2 linked regions of the Homo sapiens genome follow. The protein of the gene in region 1 interacts with the protein of each later gene in a pairwise test. Each region holds a gene or a part of one and is shown on either strand. Other genes may lie near its edges.

Region 1 (11,871 bases):
TTCTAGTGTAATGGTGCCTGGGTATTTGCATATTGAAACGCCATCCTTCTATTTGTCTTTTTTTTTTTTTTGAGACGGAGTTTCACTCTCATTGCCCAGGCTGGAGTGCAATGGCATGCTCTTAGCTCACTGCAACCTCTGCTTCCCGGGTTCAAGCAATTCTCCTGCCTCAGCCTCCTGAGTAGCTGCGATTAAAGGTGCCCACCATCATGCCTGGCTAATTCTTTATATTTTTAGTAGAGATGAGATTTCCCCATGTTGGCCAGGCTGGTCTTGAACTCCTAACCTCAGGTAATCCACCCGCCTTGGCCTACCAAAGTGCTGGGATTGCAAGTGTGAGCCACCGTGCCCGGCCTATTTGTCTTTTTTATAATCAAGACATCATATTGATTTGTTTTTTGAAATCATGTGTCCAGGCAGGTTATATTATCTGTTCATTTCACTTTGGGATATTAGTGTTGCAAAATATTTGTTATAAGAAAGGAACATTGGGACTGGGTGTAGTGGCTTACACATGTAATCCCAGCACTCTAGGAGGCTAAGGCAGGAGGATCACTGGAACCTAGGCGTTCCAGATCAGCCTGGGTAACACAGTGAGACCTTGTCTCTACTAAAAACAAAAAAAAAATTAGCTGGGCATGGTGGTGTGGGCCTGTAGTCACAGCTATTTGGAAAGCTGTGGCAGGATTGCTTGAACCTTGGAGTTCCAAGTTACAGCCACCTATGATTGTGCTACTGCATTCCAGCCTGGGTGACGGAGCAAGACCCTGTGACATTGGATATGGTAGGGTGGAAAGTCACCAGCCAGGACATTAAGAACGCAGACTCAGCCAGGCATGGTGACTCATGCCTGTAATCCCAGCCCTTTGGGAGGCTGAGGCAGGCAGATCACGAGGTCAGGAGTTCGAGACCAGCCTGGCTAACAGTGAAACCCTGTCTCTAAGAAAAATGCAAAAATTAGCCAGGTGTGGTGGCATGCGCCTGTAGTCCCAGCTACTCGGGAGGCTGAGGCAGGAGAATCGCTTGAACCTGGGAGGTGAAGGTTGAAGTGAGCCGAGGTCGCACCATTGCACTCAAGCCTGGGTGACAGAATGAGACTCCATCTAAAAAAAAAACACACAAAGGCCGGGCGCGGTGGCTCATGCCTGTAATCCCAGCACTTTGGGAGGCCGAGGTGGGTGGATCATGAGGTCAGGAGATCGAGACCATCCTGGCTAACACAGTGAAACCCTGTCTCTACTAAAAATACAAAAAATTAGCCGGGCGTGGTGGTGGGTGCCTGTTGTCCCAGCTACTCAGGAGGCTGAGGCAGGAGAATGGCGTGAACCCGGGAGGTGGAGCTTGCAGTGAGCCGAGATCGTGCCACTGCACTCCAGCCTGGGCGACAGAGTGAGACTCCGTCTCAAAAAAACAAAAAACAAAAAACAAAAAAAAACCACACACACAGGCTCAGCGGGGTGCGGTGGCTCACGCCTGTAATCCCAGCACTTTGGGAGTCCGAGGAGGGTGGATCACAAGGTCAGGAGTTCCAGACCAGCCTGGCCAACATAGTGAAACCCCTTCTCTACTAAAAAATACAAAAATTAGCCAGGTGTGGTGGAGCACGCCTGTAATTCCAGGTACTCAGGAGGCTGATGCAGGAGAATTGCTTGAACCCAGGAGGTGGAGTTTGCAGTGAGCTGAAATCATGCCACTGCTCTCCAGCCTGGGCGACAGGGCAAGATGTGTCTCGAAAAAAAAAAAAGGGGTTGGGCGCAGTAGCACATTCCTCTAATTCCAGCACTTTGGGAGGCCAAGGCTGGCGGATCACCTGAGGTCAGGAGTTCAAGACCAGCCTGACCAACATGGATAAACCCCGTCTCTACTAAAAATACAAAATTAGCTGGGCATGGTGGCACATGCCTGTAATCCCAGCTACTAGGGAGGCTGAGGCAGCAGAATAGTTTGAACCCAGGAGGTGGAGGTTGCGGTGAGCCGAGATCTCGCCATTGCACTCTAGCCTGGGCAACAAGAGTGAAACTCTGTCTCAAAAAAAAAAAAAAAAAATGCCGGGCGCAGTGGCTCACGCCTGTAATCCCAGCACTTTGGGAGGCCGAGGCGGGCGGATCACGAGGTCAGGAGATTGAGACCATCCTGGCTAACATGGTGAAACCCCGTCTCTACCAAAAATACAAAAAAAAAAAATTAGCCAGGTGTGGTGGTGGGCTCCTGTAGTCCCAGCTACTCAGGAGGCTGAGGCAGGAGAATGGTGTGAGCCTGGGAGGTGGAACTTGCAGTGAGCCGAGATCTCGCCACTGCACTCCAGCCTGGGCGAGAGAGCGAGACTCCATCTCAAAACAAACAAACAAACAAACAAAAAAACAAAGGGCCAGGTGTGGTGGCTTACACCTGTAATCCCAGCACTTTGGGAGGCCAAGGCAGGTGGATCACTTGAGGTCAGGAATTCAAGACCAGCCTGGCAAATATGATGAAACCTCATTTCTACTAAAAATACAAAAACTAGCCGGGCGTGCTGGCATGTGCCTGCAATCCCAGCTACTCGGGAGGCTGAAGCAGAAGAATTGCTTGAACCCGGGAGGCAGAGGTTGCAGTGAGCCGAGATCGCGCCATTGCACTTCAGCCTGGGCAACACAGCAAGACTGTCTGAAACAAACAAACAAAAAACACAGACTCTGGAGATACTTTTACTTTCGCTACTTATAGATATGTGACTTTGAGCAAGATGATTAACCTTGCTGTGTCTGTTTCTTCATCTGTAAAATGGGCTTAAAAATATCTGCCTCAGAAAGTTATTGAGAGGATTAAATGAGCTATGTGAGGTTTTGACAGTGCCTGGCACATGGTAAGTGTTACTAAATGTCAAACTTATGATGACTTCTGTAACCTAATTTCTTGCCTCCCCCAGAAGTTCTAACTCTATATCAATATATTTTCTGAACCAGGTGAGGTGGCTCACACCTGTAATCCCAGCACTTTGGGAGGCCGAAGTAGGAGGATCACTTGAGGCCAGGAGTTCCACACCACCTGGGCAACAAAGGGAGATGCTGTGTCTGTGAAAAGAAAAAAATTGGCCGGGCACCGTGGCTCACGCCTGTAATTCTAGCACTTTGGGAGGCCTAGGCAGGTGGATCACGAGGTCAGGAGATCGAGACCATCCTGGCTAACACGGTGAAACCTCATCTCTACTGAAAATACAAAAAATTAGCTGGGCGTGGTGGCGGGCGCTTGTAGTCCCAGCTACTTGGGAGGCTGAGGCAGGAGAATGGCATGAACCCTGGAGGCGGAGCTTGCAGTGAGCCGAGATTGCACCACTGCACTCCAGCCTGGGGGACAGAGCGAGATTCCTTCTCAAAAAAAAAAGAAAGAAAGAAAAAGAAAAAAAATGTAAAAATTAGCTGCATGTGGTCACCAGTGCCTGCAGTCCCAAATAGGAGGCTGAGGCAGAAGGACCACTTGAGCCCAGAAGTTCAAGACTACAGGCCAGGTGTGGTGGCTCACGCCCATAATCCCAGCACTTTGGGAGACCAAGGTGGATGGATTATCTGAGATCAGGAGTTTGAGACCAGCCTGGCCAACTTGGTGAAACCCCATCTCTACTAAAAACACAAAAATTAGGGCCAGGCGCAGTGGCTCACAACTCTAATCCCAGCACTTTGGAAGGCCAAGGCAGGTGGATCACCTGAGGTCTGGAGTTTGAGACCAACCTTGCCTACATGGTGAAACCCCATCTCTACTAAAAATACAAAAAATTAGCCGGGCGTGTTGGCAGGCGCCTGTAATCCCAGCTACTCGGGAGGCTGAGGCAGGAGAATCGCTTGAACCCGGGAGGCGAGCTGAGATTGCGCCATTGCACTCCAGCCTGGGCAACAAGAGAGAAACTCTGTCTCAAAAAAAAAAAAATACAAAAATTAGACAGGCATGGTGGCTGGTGCCTGTAGTCCCAGCTACTCGGGAGGCTGAGGCAGGAGAATCGCTTGAAGCCAGGAGATGGAGGTTGCATTGAGCTGAGATCACACCACTGCACTCCAGCCTGAGCAATAGAGTGAGACTCATTTTCAAAAAATAGAAAAAATAAAAAGACTGCAGGCCAGGCGCAGTGGCTCATACCTGTAATCCCAGCACTTCAGGAGGCCGAGGCGGGCGGATCATGAGGTCAGGAGATCGAGCCCATCCTGGGTAACATGGTGAAACCTCGTCTTTACTAAAACTACAAAAAAAAAAAAAAAATTAGCCAGGCATGGTGGCAGGTGCCTGTAGTCCCAGCTACTCGGGAGGCTGAGGCAGGAGAATGGTGTGAACCCAGGAGGCGGAGCTTGCAGTGAGCCGAGATTGCGCCACTGCACTCTAGCCTGTGCGTCAGAGCGAGACTCTGTCTCCAAAAAAAAAAAAAAAAAAGACTGCAGTGAGCCATTACTGTGCCACTGCACTGCAGCATGTCTTTAAAAGACCCTGTCTCTTAAAAAAAAAAAAAAGTGCGTTCAGTTATTGGAATGTGCCATGATTCTTCTTGCTTTGCCCAAACTCTCCCTACAATGCTTTTCCTTCACTTCTTCCCTGGTCAATTCCTACCTGTCCCTCAAGTCTCACTTAGAATATGGGTATGGCCTCACTTAGTTACTTTCTTTTTTCTTCCTTTAGACAGGGTTTCACTCTATTGCTCGGGCTGGAGTGCAGTGGCCAATCATGGCTCAGCCCAGCCTTGATCTCCTGGGCTTAAGTGATCCTCCCATATCAGCCTCCCAAGTAGCTGGAACCACAGGCTCACACCACCGTGTCCAGCTAATTTTTTTTTTTTTTTTTGAGACAGAGTCTCACTCTCGTTGCCCAGGCTAGAGTGCAATGGAGTGATCTCAGCTCACCGCTACCTCCGCCTCCTGGGTTCAAGCGATTCTCCTGCCTCAGCATCCCAAGTAGCTGGGATTACAGGCATGTGCCAACACACCTGGCTAATTTTGTATTTGTAGTAGAGACGGGGTTTCACCATGTTGGTCAGGTTGGTCTCGAACTCCCCACCTCAGGTGATCTGCCCGCCTTGGCCTCCCAAAGTGCTGGGATTACGGGCGTGAGCCACCGTGCCCGGTTATATCCGGGTAATTTTTGTAGTAACAAGATTTCACCATGTTTCCCAGGCTGGTCTTGAACTTCTGGGCTCAAGCGATCCCCCCTGTCAGCCTCCCAAAGTGCTGGGATTACAGGCATGAGCCACTGCACTTGGGCCATTTACCTTTTTCATGAAGCCTATATCACTATTTCCCCAAGTCTGGGTGAGATGTCCCTATATTCATCCCAGCGGCTGCCCTTATCACAGAGTGTGTGATAGAGCATGGGGCTTTACATTAGCTACAGTGGGCAGTGAATGCCCTCTGAGGACGAAGCATTTGCAGTAAGGCTTGAAAAATGAGGAAGAGGCGGAGGATAGCCAGTACACAGTCCCTGAGGTGGGAACTGCTGAATGGGGTACATTGCAGTGATAGAAATCAGGTCCTCATAATGTAGAGTGAGTGAGGAGGGGACAGGCAGGGGATGAGGTTGAAGAGTTGGGAGGCTCTGGTAAGGTGTTTGGACCCACCATCTCCCTGGCTCCATCGCCCCACGTATGGCCATGCAGGATGTAGACAGCTGAAAATCTTTACCTCGTGTCCTTGATCCCTATGCCTGCTGTGTTCCCTGCCTTCTCTGATTAATAATAAAATTCCATTCATCCTTCAAGGCCCAGCTCCAAACCATTTAGGAAACCTCCTTCCATTCTTTAGCAGGAATTAATTGCTCCCTTGTCTGACGTCCCACAGCACTAATCACACGCTGACTTGTATCTCAGCTAGCTGTTTATGCCAGTCTGCCCACCAACGTAGTGAGTTCCCTGAGGGCAGAGGCTCTGTCTTAGTCACCTCTGTAGCCATCTCCTGGTGTTTAGCAGGTACTCAATGTGACATTTACTTGACTAGTGGGTGGTGCCTAGTACTACTCATGGCAGAATAGAAGGAAAACAAAAATAATAACAACTTATGCTCTATCACGTTTTCCCATTCATTAACTGATTTCAGCTTTGCAACAACTCTATGAGACAGACGGGACAGGCACTATTAGACCCATTTTACAGATAGGGTAGCTAAGGCCCAATGGCACACAGCTTGTAAGTAATGGGGACTAAGTCCCAATCTTGCCCCCTTACTTCGGATTCTGTGCTGGGAATGGAATTAAACCAAGAGTATTTTGAAGCTATAATGGAAAGCGCTTTTCTGGGTGGACTAGGGAGAGATACTTAGTCAGCTGTCAGGGTTTAACAGCAGCTCCATCAAAGAGGGCACAGGATTTCTCTCTCTGGCCCAAGCAGCTGGAGGGGTCCACAGCACCATCCTATAGCCCTGGAAGCTGGAGGAAACCCCAGCCCGAGAAAGAAGAGACGGTGTTCGAGTCAGGTGGGTAAGATGACGTAAATGATGACTTGTGAGCAGTGGCCTGCCTCTGTTGCCATGACAACCGGAGCTTGACTACTTGGCCTTTGCAAGGTTGGCCGAGGCGGGTTCTTCGTTAACTCGAGATTAAGGAAGGATATTTAGGGGGGAGGGTGTGTGTGTGTGCGGCGGATTAAAGACGAAAGGAGTATATTCAACAATGACTGTTTAGCTCAGTGGTTCTCCACCTTGGCAACACGTTAGAATCACCTGCAACAATTTCCTGATGCCTAGGCTGCACCCCAGAATTAAATTATAATTTCCAGGGGTGGGAACCAGGCATCATAGTATTTAAATCTTGCCAGGTGATTCCAATTGCAGCTAAAGTTGCAAACCCAGCTTTTAGCTGGTAAGCGGAATTCCTGTGACCTTCCTAAGATGGCGTCCACTCAACCGCTTCCGCCTTTACGTGGGCCGGCAGGGGGCGGGCTTCCCAGGGGCGCATGCGTCTCGCATCTCTCCGCTCCCTGCTCTCTCCTCCTTTTTCCCCCGCCTCCATTTTGTTCGCGGACGCTGGGGACGGTGGGAGCAGATCCATTTCCGGGTTGGCAAAAGGGGCGGTGGCGGCGGCGGCGGCGGCGGCGGCGGCGGCGACGGCGAGAAAGAGCTTGCCGGGGGGCGAGCAGGACAGGACGAAGCCGGAGTGTAGGCGGCAGAGGATTCGCTCCCAGAGCAGCTGCGGCCAGGTCGGAAAGAGGCCGGGGCGGCTGGGTCAGTCGCTGAAATGACCTGCGGACCTGAGTGGGAGGGAAAGTCGCGGGGAGGGGGGCTCGGGGCGGGGCTTGAGAAGAGAGGGGGGCATTAGAGGAGGGGCCGGAGGGGGAGAGGGGTCTTGCGGGTGGGGCCTGAGGGGCGGGGGGCCGGGGGACTGTATCGGAAGAACCTGGAGGAGAGAGGGCGTGGGGAATCTGGGGAGGAGTGGTCGAATATTGGTATGGGGCGAGCGGGGACTGGAAAAATGGGGAGGAACGTTTTTGAGAGACAGGCAATAAGGGCTCCTGAAGGGTTGGGTGAGTTAAGGCGGCAACTCTGTGAGGAACGAGGTAATCGTGCGCAAAAAGGGAGACGGGAACGGAGGACCTGTTGGGAACGGCTAATTAGCAGGATGCTGTGGGTGAGGAGTCCAGTGTGACATTTTGGGGATTGAGTTAGGTGAAAGCTAGTGTTTGGGAAGATGGCTCGGGAAACTGCTTACACTAGAGGGAATCTTGAGAGCGTTCTTTGAAAAGGAATCAGAATTTAGTTAAAGGTTGGATTGAGAATGTTAAGATGCGCATTGGAACGTCTGGAGTTGAGGGTTCATGTTGAAGTGGTGTGAAGTGAGGGAAGATGGAATTTTTTTTTTTTTGTTTTAAAGGTGGGGTCTGGCTATGTTGCTCAGACTAGTCTTGAACTCCTGGGCTCAAGCGATCTTCCCACCTTGGACTCCCAGAGTGCTGGGATTACAGGTGTGAGCCACTGCACCCGGCCAAGATGGAAATGTTAAAGTGTTCAGCATGGCAGTGTGTATGGTCGAGTTTTTTATCAGGAAGGAAAGTTCTTAAAAATAGCATTGAGGCAAGGAACTGATATGTGATGGAATTCTTTTTTCTTTTTTTTTCTTTTAAGAGACGTGGTCTCACTCTGTCGCCCGGGCTGGAGTGCAGTGGCATGATCATGGCTCCTTAAAGCCTCGACCTCCCGGGCTGAAGTGGTCCTTCCACCTAAGCCCCGCCAATAGCTGGGACCACAGGTGTGACCACTACTCCCGCCTAACGTGTGTGTGTGTATATATATATATATATATATATATATATATATATATATATATATGTATATATATATATTTTTTTGTTGTTGTTGTTGGAGACAGAGTCTTGCCCTGTTGTCCAGGCTAGTCTGGAATTCCTGGGCTCAAGTGATCCTCCTGTCTCGGCCTCCGCAAGTGCTGGGATTACAGGGATGAGCCACTGTGCCTGGCCCAGAATTCGTTTTTTTTTTTTTTTTGAGATGGAGTCTCGCTCAGTGGCCTAGGCTGGAGTGTAGCGGTGCGATCTCGGCTCACTGCAAGCTCCGCCTCCCGGGTTCACGCCCATTCTTCTGCCTCAGCCTCCCGAGTAGCTGGGACTATAGGTGCCCACCACCACACCTGGCTAATTTTTTTTTGAATTTTTAGTAGAGACGGGGTTTCACTGTGTTAGCCAGGATGGATGGTCTGGATCTCCTGACCTCGTGATCCGCCCGCCTCTGCCTCCCAGAGTTCTGGGATTAGAGGCGTGAGCCCCTGCGCCTGTCCAGAATTCATATTTTTTAAAGGACTTGAATAATCTGTTATTGCTTTGGGCTCTCCCAGGGTCCCCGTCCTTTTTCATGCTGTTATTTTTGCCTTACGGTTTTGGTTTTTGACTGTCTTACTGAATGTTTTTGGCTATTCTGTTCTCCTTTTACAAATCAGAAGAGAACCACAGGGAATAAGGACAGTTTTAGCCTACCTATGGATTTAGTAAATAACTTCAAGGCAAATTATTAAGCTCTCATTTTTTTCCCCTTTGAAATATAGGTTTTCTCTGTCCCTGCCTCTAAAAGTTTGTCTTAACACATGGGATCTTTAAAGTGGTTGCATAGAAGTGATCTCTGAAAATGAGATTGAGATATTGATATTTAAAAGACATACAATGGTGCACCTGCCTGTAATCCCAGCTACTTGGGAGGCTGAGGCAGGAGGATTGCTTGAGTCTAAGAGTTCGAGACCATTCTGGGCAACGTAGCAATACCCCATCTCTCTCTCTGTCTCTTTTTTTGTTTGTTTGTTTAAGACGGAGTCTCGCTCTTTCACCCAGGCTGGAGTGCAGTGGCGTGATCTCGGCTCACTGCAACCTCTGCCTGCCGGATTCAAGCGCTTCTCCTGCCTCAGTCCCCCAAGTAACTGGTACTATAGGCATGCACCACCACGCCCAGCTAATTTTTTGTATTTTAGTAGAGATGGGGTTTCACCATGTTGGTCAGGCTGGTCTCGAACTCCTGACTTCAGGTGATCCACCCACCTCGGCCTCCCAAAGTGTTGAGATTACAGGCATGAGCTACCACACCTGGCCGCATGTTTAGTTTTTTAACTCTTATTAATGTCAACTTTTAAAAGTAAAAATTTCATATTGTGTTACATTGGTTGCCATCAAGATGAAGATAGGGAAGTTAAGAGTTGGGGAAGGTGGAGATGAATGAAGTCAATTGATGAAGACTAGTAGAATGTAGTGTTGGTTTTTTTATTTGTTTATTTATTTATTTTGAGACAGAGTCTTGCTGTATTGCCCAGGCTGGAGTGCAATGGCACAATCTTGGCTCACTGCAACCTCTGTCTCCTGGGTTCAAGCAATTCTCCTGGCTCAGCCTCCCAAGTAGCTGGGATTACAGGCGCGTGCTGCCACGCCCAGCTAATTTTTGTATTTTTAGTAGAGACAGGGTTTCACCGTATTGGCCAGGCTGGTCTCGAACTCCTGACCTCGTGATCTGCCCACCTTGGCCTCCCAAAGTGCTGGGATTACAGGTGTGAGCCACCGCGCCTGGCCGACCTGTCTCTTAAAGGAAAACAAGGCTGGGCGCGCTGGCTCATGCCTATAATCCCAACGCTTTGGGAGGCCAAGGTGGTGGATCACCTGAGATTGCAGTGAGCTGAGATCGCGCCATTGCACTCCAGCCTGGGCAACAAGAGCGAAACTCCACCTCAACAACAACAACAACAACAACAAAAGGAAACATGTTTTTCTGTTTCTTCCTCTTAGCCTTGCTCATGTGTGTGTGTGTTTGTGTGTGTGTGTGTGTGTCTGCGTGCCAGCCAGGGAAGAACTGGTTTTGATTTGATGCATATTCAGTTTTTTTTTTTTTTTTTTTTTTTTTTTTTTTTTGAGACAGAGTTTCGCTCCTGCTGCCCAGGCTGGAGTGGAATGGCGCAGTCTTGGCTCACTGCAACCTCCGCCTGCCGGATTCAAGCGCTTCTCCTGCCTCAGTCCCCCAAGTAACTGGTACTATAGGCATGCACCACCACGCCCAGCTAATTTTTTGTATTTTAGTAGAGATGGGGTTTCACCATGTTGGTCAGGCTGGTCTCGAACTCCTGACTTCAGGTGATCCACCCACCTCGGCCTCCCAAAGTGTTGAGATTACAGGCATGAGCTACCACACCTGGCCGCATGTTTAGTTTTTTAACTCTTATTAATGTCAACTTTTAAAAGTAAAAATTTCATATTGTGTTACATTGGTTGCCATCAAGATGAAGATAGGGAAGTTAAGAGTTGGGGAAGGTGGAGATGAATGAAGTCAATTGATGAAGACTAGTAGAATGTAGTGTTTGTTTTTTTATTTGTTTATTTATTTATTTTGAGACAGAGTCTTGCTGTATTGCCCAGGCTGGAGTGCAATGGCACAATCTTGGCTCACTGCAACCTCTGTCTCCTGGGTTCAAGCAATTCTCCTGGCTCAGCCTCCCAAGTAGCTGGGATTACAGGCATGTGCCACCTGGCTAATTTTTGTATTTTTAGTAGAGACAGGGTTTTGCCATGTTGGCCAGGCTGGTCATTTACTAATTCCACCTCACACTTGATACTAGAGTAGTGTTTACCCTAGCTGGTACTGATAAGTTATGTGATAGCACCAAGGTGAAATGCAGGAGAGGTGTGAACATTGGAGTTTTCAGGTTTTACTGATGGCTTTTACGAAGGGAAGAGATTCTAGACTCACTAGGTGTTTTTAGGAAAAAAAAAAGGCAAGAGGCAAGAGACAGAAGTCTTGTTCTGTTGAAGAGAAAATTTTTTTTTGGGTTTTTTTTTTTTTTTTTTGAGACGGAGTCTCGCTCAGTTGCCCAGGCTGGAGTGCAATGGCATGATCTCTGCTCACTGCAACCTCCACCTCCCAGGTTCAAGCGATTCTCCTGCCTCAGCCTCCTGAGTAGCTGGGTGCCATCACGCCTGGCTAATTTTTGTATTTTTGTAGAGACGAGGTTTCACTGTGTTGGTCAGGCTGGTCTCGAACTTCTGACCTTGTGATCTGCCAGTCTCGGCCTCCCAAAGTGCTGGGATTACAGGCGTGAGCCACCGCGCCCGGCCCGAGAAAATTATTAAATGTTCTTTCTTTACTTGTGTTCTCTGATTGGGAGAGTAACCTGGTATATGTTAGTCTGTTTTCCTGCTCTGAAATAACTGTGAAATTCATGGGCTCTTGGTTCAGGCAGCTTCAGCAAACATAGTCTTCTTACAACCCCAGGAAGAGTTGCAGGCTACAAAATATATGTACTTATTTGGGAGTAAAAACCTGCTTAATATTATGCTATTGCAACCTACAGTGTACCTTTTTGGTTTGTTTTTTAAGGGGATTTTGAGATAACATATGGAGGCTCGGTGCTCCTGGGCGGACTTTTGGTACAGCCTGCTTATTTTTTTTTTCT
Region 2 (11,024 bases), on another chromosome or scaffold:
AGAAGAAAATCAGCCCTGTGATGAAAGAGAAGGTAACTAGAGAAGGCCACTTGCCTTAGTGCAGCCATGGAGGGCCTCTCTGAGGAGGTGGCATTTGAGCTGAGACCAGAATGATGAGAAGCAGCCAGCCATGGGAGACTCCAGAGGGAGAGTGTTCCAAGCTGAAGGAACAGCAAGCGCAAAGGCCCTGGGGCTATGTTGTAAGATCAGAGAAAGCCACTGAGGCCAGAGGGGAGCAAGCTTGGCAGTGGGCTGGACAAGTGGAAGAGAGCTTGGAGTTTTATTCTAATCCCTGCTGAGTCTAGCTAGACAGACTTGTCCTGGGTCAAGTCACTTAACTGCCTGAGACCTCTAGCATCCCAGAAGGTGGCATGACCAAGGCATGAGGGATGACCTGTGAACGTGGTTGCCGATGGCCCAGGCGGCAGCCACTTCTAGAAACACCCACAGCTCAGCCTCACTCACCCACCCAGTTCTGCTTCCAGCTATCAGAGCCAGTAGGCATGGGACGAGCCCTGGCACCCAAATGCCATTCCTTGTAAAGTCTCTGTTTTTAAAATCAAACTCTCTGATTCAAACCTAATAAACCCCAGAAAGTAATAGACTGTATTAGTTTCCTATGGCCGCTAGAACAAATTACCATTATCATCTTGGCTTAAGACAAAAGAAGTTTATTCTCCTGCAGTTCTGGAGGCCAGAAGTCCACAGTCAGTGTTCCTGGGCTGAAACCAAGGTGGCAGCAGTGCCACACTCCCTTCGGAAGAATTAGGGGAAAATCCATTCTTTGCCTTTTCCAGCTTTTGGTGACTGCTGGCATTCTGTGGCTTGTGGCCTGTTCCTCCGTCTTCAAGGCCAGTGTTATAGCATGTTCACATCTCTCTCTGTTCCATGGTCAGGTGACGTGTGTGTGTGTGTGTGTGTGTGTGTGTGTGTGTGTGAAGTTTCCCTGTGCCTCTTTCTTTTTTTTTATTTTATTTATTTTTTATTATTATTGTACTTTAAGTTTTAGGGTACATGTGCACAACGTGAAGGTTCGTTACATATGTATACATGTGCCATGTTGGTGTGCTGCACCCATTAACTCGTCATTTAGCATTAGGTATATCACCTAATGCTATCCCTCCCCACTTCCCCCGTGCCTCTTTCTTATAAGGACTATTGTGTTGGCATTTAGCGTCCACCCAGATAATCTAGGATAACCTTTGCATCTCAAGATCCTTAATTATAGGCTGAGTGCATGGCTCACACCTGTAAGTAATCTCAGCACTTTGGGAGGCCAAGGCGGGCAGATCACTTGAGGTCAGAAGTTTGTGACCAGCCTGGCCAACATGGTGAAACCCTGTTTCTACAAAAAATACAAAAATTAGCTGGGTGTAGTGGCATGCACCTGTAATCTCAGCCACTCAGGAGGCTGGGGAAGGAGAATCACTTGAACCCGGGAGGTAGAGGCTGCAGTGGGCTGAGATCACACCACTACACTCCAGTCTGGGCGACAGAGTGAGACCCTGTCTCAAAAAAAAAAAATTCTTAATTAAATAATTAAATTACATCTGCAAAGTCCCTTTCATCATATATGGTGGCTGTCACAATTTCTGGGGATTAGAACCTGGATTTCTTTTTTTTTTTTTTTTTTTTGAGATAGGGTTTTGCTCTGTTGCCAAGGCTATATAGTGCAGTAGTACAATTATGGCTCACTGGAACCTCAAACTTTTGGGTTCAAGAGTTCCTCCTGCCTCAGCCTCCCTAGTAGCTAGGACTATAGGTGTTGCCACCATGCCAGGCTAATTTTTTAAAAATTTAATTTTGTAGAGATGGGGTCTTGGTATGTTGTCCAGGCTGATCTGGAACTTCCGGCCTCAAGTACTCTTCCCGTGTCAGCCTCTTAAAGCCTTGGGATTACAGGCATGAGCCACTGCACCCATCCAGGACCTGGATATTTTCGGAGGCTATTATTCATCCCACCATAATGGCCAATGATTATCTTTAAGGGAAGACACTGCAAATGAAGATTCCAAAAGAACTGGAATCCTGGGTAAAGAATCTTCTAGAACATCTGAACTCATATGTGTTCAATTTCTATTGAGTATCTACTGTATGCTCAACTCTGGGCTAGTGGCTGGGGAAATGCAGTGTTCAGGACCCCACTCCTGCCTTTACAGATTGCCCAATCTAGGGCAGGTTTGCTTAATGTTAGCACTCCAGACATTTTAGGCCAGATACTTCTTTGCTGTAAGGAGTGTCCTGTGCACCGTGGGATGTTTAGCAGCATTCCTGGCCTCTATTCACCAGATGCCAGTAGCAGCCCATCCATAAAGTCTCAGGCATTGCCAAATATCCTCTGTGGGGCAAACTTGCCCCCGGTTGAAAACCACTGGTTTGCAGGGTGGGAGTAGGCATACCAGTGGCTATTACAACTCAGTATTTTTGTTTTGTTTTGTTTTTGTTTTTGTTTTTGAGATGGAGTCTCACTGTCACCCACGCTGGAGCACAGTGGTGCAATCTCGGCTCACTACAACCTCTGCCTCTTGGGTTCAAGCAGTTCTCCCGCCTCAGTCTCCCAAGTAGCTGGGACTGCAGGTGCACGCCACCACGCTTGGCTGATTTTTATGTTTTTTGTTTTGTTTTGTTTTAGTAGAGATGGAGTTTCGCCATGTTGGCCAGGCTGGTCTCAAACTCCTGATCTCAGCCTCCCTACCTACCTACTTCAGCCTCCCACAGTGCTGAGATTATAGGTGTGAGCCACTGTGCCTGGCCAGAACTCAGTATTTTAAACGCTGGGATAGGCAGAAGCTGGGGCTCCTATCCTGGCCAGAGAAGGAGGTACCAGCTAAGCTGGGACCCACAGGTAGGGTAGGAGTTGGTTAGGCTGGGAAGGGTAGATATACCATGGGGAGGCTTGGAGGTAAGGTCATGAATTTAGGGTGGTTCCATGTGGCTCAAGACCCAGGTGCTGGGAAGTGGCCTGCGTGGAGATCGGGGCCAGACCCTGCAGCACTTAGCAACCAAGCTCCAAGCTCTGGAGGTGCATTGTCCACTGAACCTTCTATGAGGATGGGGCTGTGCCTTTATCTGTGCTGTGCAGCACGGTGGCCTCAGCCACCTGTGGTGATTAAATGTCTGAAATGTGGCCAGGGCGCCTGAGGGACAAATGTTTTGATATTATTTAATTAATTTGAATGTAAATAGCCACATGTGGCTGTGGCATTGGGCAGGGCAGTTCCAGAGTTCGGTCACCATGGAAGGATTTTGCTCAGGGCAGTGATGGAGGCTGGGTTGTTGGGGTGGAAGTAGGATAGGAGATCAGACCAAGGCACTGGCAGGGATGACAGAGGAAAGGGGCCCAGAGGCACAGGGGAGGTAGAATCGGCCCGCCTTGCTGGTGGTCAAGATGTGGGGTAGGGACAGGGATCATCAGGGTGACACTCAGGCTGGTGGTCTGGTGAGTCAGGTGAAGAAGCACTTCTGGGGGAAAGATGTTGAACTCAGAGTGGTCCTTGTTAGTCTGTGTTGGAACATTCTAGTAGCCAGTGGACAGCTGGGAGGAGAGGCCAGGAGCTCGAGAAGTCACCAGGGCTGCAATCAGAGATCTGGGAGGCAGCAGTTCATGTATCCAGGTGGGTATGTTTGAGAGCCACCCATCCCAGAATCCTCGGTGTGCCTAATGCAGATTCCTGGGTCTGGCCCTGGACTTATTTAACCAGATTCACAGGGGATGGGCCTAGGAACATGAATTTAAAATAGCACCCCATTGATTCTGATGTGTAGGAATGTAGAGATGGCTCTAAAATCCTGAGAACAAATGAATTTACCCAGATTGCAGTGTAGAAAGGGAATTTTTTTTTTTTTTTTTTTTTTTTTTTTTTTGAGATGGAGTTTCACTCTTTTTGCCCAGGCTGGAGTGCAGTGGTGCGATCTCGGCTCACTGCAACCTCTGCCTCCCGGGTTCAAGTGATTCTCCTGCCTCAGCCTCCTGAGTAGCTGGGATTACAGGTGCGTGCCACCACGCTGGCTAATTTTGTATTTTTAGTAGAGACAGGGTTTCATCATGTTGGCCAGGCTTGAACTCCTGATCTTGAGTGATCCTAGTGCCTTGGCCTCCCAAAGTGCTGGGATTACAGGCGTGAGCCACCATGCCCGGCCTAGAAAGGGAATTCTTAACTGAGGTCTACAGATGGGCTTCAGGGGTTCAGGAAACCTCTGAAAACTATTATCTAAGTTTCATATGTGTGTTGTTTTAGAAAAAGGATCCAAACTTTATTTATTTATTTGTTTATTTGTTTGTTTATGAGACGGAGTCTTGCTATGTTGTCCATGCTGATCTCAAACTCCTGGACTCAAGCGATCTCTCTGCCTCATCTTCCCAAAGTGCTCCCAAAGGATCCAAACATTAATTGGATTATCAAATGGGCCCATGATCCAAAAAAGTTAAGAATCGCTAGTATAGAGTGAAAACAGTTATTTGTAAATCCCTTGTTGAAATGGATTCCAGGCTGACATCGAAAGGAGGTGATGCTGTGGAAGGGGGCCTGTCACAGGAGTCTGGGACATTGGGTTCATCTCTTCCTTTATCACTTTCTGGCTTTGTGATTTTTGGACAGGTCACCTTACTTTGCTGGGCCTCCATTGGCCAGTCGGTAAAATGGGGATAATTGTATCAGCCTGACTTCACCACGTGGTTATTATACAGTTTATTTACTAAATATTTATTCAACATCTGCCAGGGGCAGGTGCTGGGCTAAGCCCTGGGGATGGAGCTCTGGTCTCTGCTCTTTCTGTCCCTGGTTCCAGGTCAGTGAGGTGCAGTGTTGCGGTGGGGGGCCTGGGAAGTACATCACATCTTGCAGGATCAGTGGAGGGTGTGATTCCACAGCAGAGCTGGGCACACAGAGGAAATGTTAGCCATGCTGTATGTGTTTTTCCCCGGTGGGCAAACTTTTTATTTCTTTTTACTTTTTTTTTCAACTTTAAAAAACTGTGATTAAAAAAAACCCACAGCGTAAAATTCCATCTTAGTCATTTTAAATTATACAGTTTAGTAGTTCAAGTATAGTCACGTTGTGAAACAGAGTGTTTTCATCTTGCAAAACTGAAACTCTGTGCCGTTTAACAACTCTCCTTCCCCCAGCCCCTGGTAAATACCATTCTCCTTTCTGTCTGTATGCATTTGACTACTCTAGGGACCCCATAAAAGGGTCATACAGTATTTGTCCTTTTTTTATTGGCTTACTTCACTTAGCATAACGTCCTCAAGTTTCATCCATGTTACAAAATGTGCCAGAATTTCCTTCCTTTTTAAGGCTGGATAATAGTTCCATGATATGAATAAACTATGTTTTGTTGACCCATTCATCCACTTGGGTACACTTGTACCTCTTGCTGTTGAGAACAGTACTGCAATGAATGTGGGTATGCAAATCTCTTTTTGAGATTCTGCTTTCAATTCTTTTGGCCATATACCCACAAGTGGGATTGCTGGATCCTATGGTAGTTCTATTTTTAATTTTTTGAGGAACTACCATACTGTTTTCCACATCAGTTACACCATTTTACAATCCCATCAACACTGTACAAGGGTCCCAGTTTCTCCGCATCCTTGCCAACATTGTTATTGACTGTGTTTTTGATAGTAACCACCTCATGGGTGTGATAACCATGGTATTTCGTTGTGGTGTAGATTGGCATATCCCTAATGGTTAATGATGCTGCTGAGCATTTTTTCATGTGCTATGTGTCCACTTGTATATCACCTTTGGAGAAATGTCTATTCAAGTCTCTTGCCCGTTTTTTTTAATCAGTTATCGGATTTTTGTTGTTGAGGTCTTTATTCTGTATATTAATATTTTCTCTTATTCTATAGGCTGCCTTTTCATTCTGTTGGTTGTGTCTTCTGATGCACAAAAGTTTTTAGGTTTAATGTAATTCCGTTTGCCTTTTTGTACTTTTTTTTTTTTTTTTTTTTTGAGACGGAGTCTTGCTCTGTCCCCCAGGCTGGAGTGCAGTGGCGTGATCTTGGCTCACTGCAAGCTCCACTTCCCGGGTTCACGCCATTCTCCTGCCTCAGCCTGCCGAGTAGATGGGACTACAGGTGCCAGCCACCATGCCCGGCTAACTTTTTGTATTTTTAGTAGAGACGGGGTTTCACCATGTTAGCCAGGATGGTCTCGATCTCCTGACCTCGTGATCCGCCCGCCTCGGCCTCCTAAAGTGGCCGATTTGTACCTTTTGTTTCCTTTGCTTTTAGTGTCAGTGTATGTGTGTGTGTGTGTGTGTTTAATTTAATATAATATAATTCATGGCCAGGCACTGTGGCTCATGCCTGTAGTTCCAGCACTTTGGGAGGCTGAGTCAGGTGGATTGCTTGAGGCCAGGAGTTTGAGACCAGCCTGAGCAACATGGCAAAACCCCGTTATCTACAGAAAATACAAAAAGTAGCCAGACGTGGTGGCACACACCTGTAGTCCCAGGTACTTGGGAGGCTGAGGTAGGAAGATTGCTTGAGCCTGGGAGGTCAAGGCTGCAGTAAGCCATTATCACACCACTGCACTCTAGCCTGGGTGACAGAGCAAGATCCTGTCTCAAAAAACAAAATAAATAAAAAGAAATATAATTCACATTCCACCAATTTCTTCTTTAAAAGTGTATGATTCAGTTTTGATTTTGATACATTCACAAGGTTGTACATCCATTACTACTATGTAGTTCCAGAAGTTTTTCACTGCGCCAAATGGGAGCCCTGTACCCATCAGACAGTCCCTACCCATCTTCCCTTTCCCCAAGCCCCTGGGAACCACTAGTCTACTTTCTGTTCCTATGAATTTGCCTGTTCCGGACATTTCATGTAAATGAAATCTGGGTTAGTCATGGATCTCCAAAGAAACAAAACCAATAGGATATCTGTAAGTATGGAGAAAGAGATTTATTATGAGGAATTCATTCATGCAATTTTGGAGACTGAGAAGTCCCACGATCTGCCATCCACAAGCAGCAGGCCCAGGAACGCCGGTGGCATAAAACCCATCCTAGCCCGAAGGCCTGGGAACCAGGGGAGCCTACAGTGTCTCATTCTGAATCTGAAAGCCCCAGAACAGAGGGGCCGACGTGTAAGGCCTAGTCTGACTCCAAAGGCCCCAAAACCAGGAGGTATGATGTCTGAGAGGAGATGAGGACGGCTATCCTAGCTCAAGCAGGGAGAGGAAATTCCCTCTTCCTTTCTTTGTTGTCGTATTCAGGCCCTCAAAGGTTTGGATAATGCCCATCCAGATTGGGAAGGGAGGGCCTTCTTTTTTCTTTTCTTTTCTTTTCTTTTTTTTTTTTTTTGAGACAGGGTCTTGCTCTGTCACCCAGGCTGGAATACCATGGTGTGATCTCAACTCACTGCAGCCTCCACCTCCCGGGCTCAATTGATCCTCCTGCCTCAGCCTCCTGAGTAGCTGGGACTACAGGCATGCACCACCACGCCTGCCTAATTTTTCTATTTTTTGTAGAGACGGGATCACTATGTTGCCCAGGCTGGTCTTGAGCTCCAGAGCTCAAGTGATCCTCCCACCTTGGCCTCTCAAAGTGCTGGGATTACAGCCATGAGCCACTGCATGAGGGTGGATCTTCTTTTCTCCGTCCACCAATTCAAATGCTAATTTTTTTTTTTTCCTAGAAACACCTTCACAGACCCAGATGTGATCTGGGTATCCCTTAGCCCAGTCTAGGTGACACATGTTTTGTACAATATGTGGCTTTTTGTCTGGCTTCTTTCACTTAGCATATTTTCCAGGTTCATCCCGGTTTAGGTGTTTACCATTATTTCATTCCTTTTGATGGTCAAATAATCACCCATTGTGTGGACATACCACATTCTGTTTATCCATTCATACATTGATGGGCATTTGAGTTGTTTCTGCTTTTGTGTTGTTATGAGTAATGTTGCTATGAATGTTTATGTACGTGCTTTTTTTGGGGCATACATTTTTGGTTCTTTTGGGCACATACCTAGGAGTGGAATTGCTGGGCCACATGGTAACTCTGTTTTAGCCGTGCTGTGTTGCAGACCAGCTGTGAGTGAGTGTTGTGGGTTTCCAGCTGCCTTGGGATGCAGGAGGAGCCTGGGCTTTAGGTCAGACAGACCTGGATCTTGATTCTACCACTCCCTAGCCAAGTGACTGCACCCCCACAGTACAGTTCTGGGCCCAAGCTGGCAGGTGCAAATAGGCTTTGATATAAAACTATGTTTCCTCAGCTCTATAGGAAGACAGAGGTAGGGCATCTTCAGCTCATTGGGAGATCTAGCCCCTGCACCCACATAGCTCCTTTTGCTCTACTACTGCAAGAATTGTGTCTGGCTGCCACAGGCGAGAGCCAAAGCACTATGGGTTACCTTGAATCACAGAAGCTGTAGCCTCCGTTTCCCACCAACCTTTTCTATGACTCTGTTTACCCAGACCCAAGGCCTGCTGGCCAACTCAGTCCCTCCAGTGCAGGGGCAGTGGGTGGCAGATACAACAGTCCTCGTGGAGCCTCTGTGCTACGGGAGGCCAGGGTCATTCCCAGGCAGGCCCCCATCAGCCCAGGCCCGATGTTAACCCTTGACTCACAGTGACCTTGAACTTGAACAGTGACCATGACACCTTCTGGGTACCCACTTTTCTTTTCTGTAAAATGGGGTTGATGTTGGCTGTATTATAAGGTTGTAAAAAGATGATTAAATGAGGTGCACAATGTGTTTAGGGGACCTGGCAGGGCTCCTGATGCCCCTTGTGGGCTTCAGAAGTGGCACCTGTTATTCTGATCACGAGTGTGACTTCCGCATCCTGGGCTGTGCAGAGGCATGTTCTCAGCTCACCCCATCACACTGGAGTTCTCCTGGAGTTGGAAACTGTCTTCCTGTGGAAAGTTATGTTATGCTTTCAAGGCACTGTTTTCACAGAATTCCTCCGAACCCAAAGGTCATGGGCTTCCATGAATTTCCACCCAAAGTAGGAAAGTCTCTTCCTGCCACAGACAGATTTCTTAGATCTAATTTTGGTCTCAGCTGTCAGAGCTGGTTTTGTTTGTGGGGTTTGACCAGTGTTTCTTTTTCTTTTGGGGAGTTGTGGGGGGATAAGATCTTGTTCTGTTGCCCAGGCTGGAGTGCAGTGGTGTAATCATGGCTCACTGCAGCCTCAACCCCCTGAGCTCAAGCAATCCTCCCTTCTCAGCCTCCTCAGTAGCTGGGAATACAAGCATGCACTACTACACCCTGCTAATTTTATTTTTATTTTTTGTAGAGACCGGGTCTCAAAACTCCTAGCCTCAGTGATCCTCCTGCCTTGGCCTCCCAAAGTGCTGGGATTAAAGGTATGAGCCACTGCACCCAGCCTGCTTATTATTTCTTGGTTGGTCCTTGTTCAGCCTAGTGAATGTCATATTGAGAAGATCATTGTCCTGTGGTCTCAGACACTACAGGAAATCACATGTTAGTGGGCTCAGGTCTTCAGGCAAACACGTGAAGTAAAAATCACCCCTGAAAATCCCTAACTAGCCAATCAAGTAACTTTTGTCTTTCAAGAAGTCTTTAGCCATCACTTTATCTGCCATTGGATACAAAAGCAGTCCTGGACATGAGCCCCGCTTGAAATTGTTGGCTGCTGTTTGGGGGAACTTATGTTGAATGAAAAATAACAATAGCAAACACTTCCCCAGCACTTACTATATGCAAGCACTATTCCAGGTTTTTTATTTAGCATAATTCATTTCATCTTCATTACAAACCTAGGCACTATCATTTTCTCAGAGTCAAGATTAAAAAGACTGAAGCTAACAGAGAGAGCTGAGTGACTTGCTCAATGTCACACACCTGTTCACTTCAAGGAAGGGATTTGAGCCTGACACGGTGGCATGCACCTGTAATCCCAGTTACTAGGGAGGCTGAGGTGAGAGGATGGCTTCAGTCCAGGAGTTCGAGTCCAGCCTGGACAACATAGCAAGAACCCACCTCTAAAAAGAAAAAACAGAGGAGATTTGAACCCTTGGAATCGGGCTCTAGACTCCATATCTTACATTACATTGTGCGCAGATACTCACAGGGCGAGACACTCAGCGTGAGCTTTGCTGTGAGAACAGCAGATTCAGGGCTTCCATCTTAGGCTTACCCTGGGGAGTACTTTATATGTTCCTCCTGTAAATGCTGATGCAGAATTGACCCCACTCTTTAGAGCAGCTTCTCAGCCTTGGCACTATGGATATTTGAGGCAGATCATTCTATGTGGTGGAGGCTGTCCTATGTATCATAGGATGCTGGGCAGCACCCCAGCCCCCACCCACTACATGCCAGTAGCTTCCAACCCCTCAGATGTGACAATGAAAAATGTCTCCTGATGTGGCCAAGTGTCCCCTCACAGCCACATTGCCCCTGGTTGAGATCTCTGATTTAGATTATCCCCTCTCTGTCTGGGGTTTGGATTTGGATAAGTGAAATTTGTATTTGAGGGAACTCAAAGCACCTCTTAATACTTCTGTGTGTGACATTGACCCAAGAGAAGCCGGAGGTGTGGGGGGCAAGGAAGGAGAGGGCACAGGTGACAGTATTGATGACACCTTGGTGGGCACTCATCCTCTGAAATCAACAATAGCACATCTCTAATTGGTACCCACGCACAGACATGCACACACATCATGCTCCCACACACTAAGGAGAAGATTTTTAGTTTTTCTTTGTTGATTTTCCAGGAGTTCTGCTCACCTCAATGAGTGAGGACCCCTTATCCAGACCCCTGTCCCCTGAGCTTTTGGGGAACAAAGTTATATTGTCACCGGCTCTCTAAAATCTATTTTGAAATTATAGAAATATGACACATAAGCAGGTCCCATCAAGAGCTGATTGTTTAATTTTAAGGAAGGTCCATGATTACCAAGGAAAATAACCCACAGAATCACGGAACTAGACAAATTTCAGTTCTCTTTGATTAGGGCACGGAATTACGTATTTTGAAATTAACTCCTTACATCTAAGGCAGCTTAACTTCCTCTTATTTATATTTCTTGTTCACATGAAA

The links.
Region 2: the proteins of WIPF2 (region 1) and TVP23A interact in binary tests that used the Homo sapiens proteins (3 or more experiments, as listed by UniProt).

Annotation. Positions count from the first base shown.
Region 1 is NC_000017.11:40,212,352-40,224,222, forward strand, and holds the start of WIPF2 (WAS/WASL-interacting protein family member 2), read left to right. Parts: upstream 1-6,952; 5' UTR 6,953-7,141; exon of another isoform or gene 7,142-7,166; intron 7,167-7,319; exon of another isoform or gene 7,320-7,569; intron 7,570-11,871. UniProt on the Homo sapiens protein: Plays an active role in the formation of cell surface protrusions downstream of activated PDGFB receptors. Plays an important role in actin-microspike formation through cooperation with WASL.
Region 2 is NC_000016.10:10,806,840-10,817,863, reverse strand, and holds part of TVP23A (Golgi apparatus membrane protein TVP23 homolog A), read left to right. Parts: intron 1-9,257; exon of another isoform or gene 9,258-9,327; intron 9,328-11,024.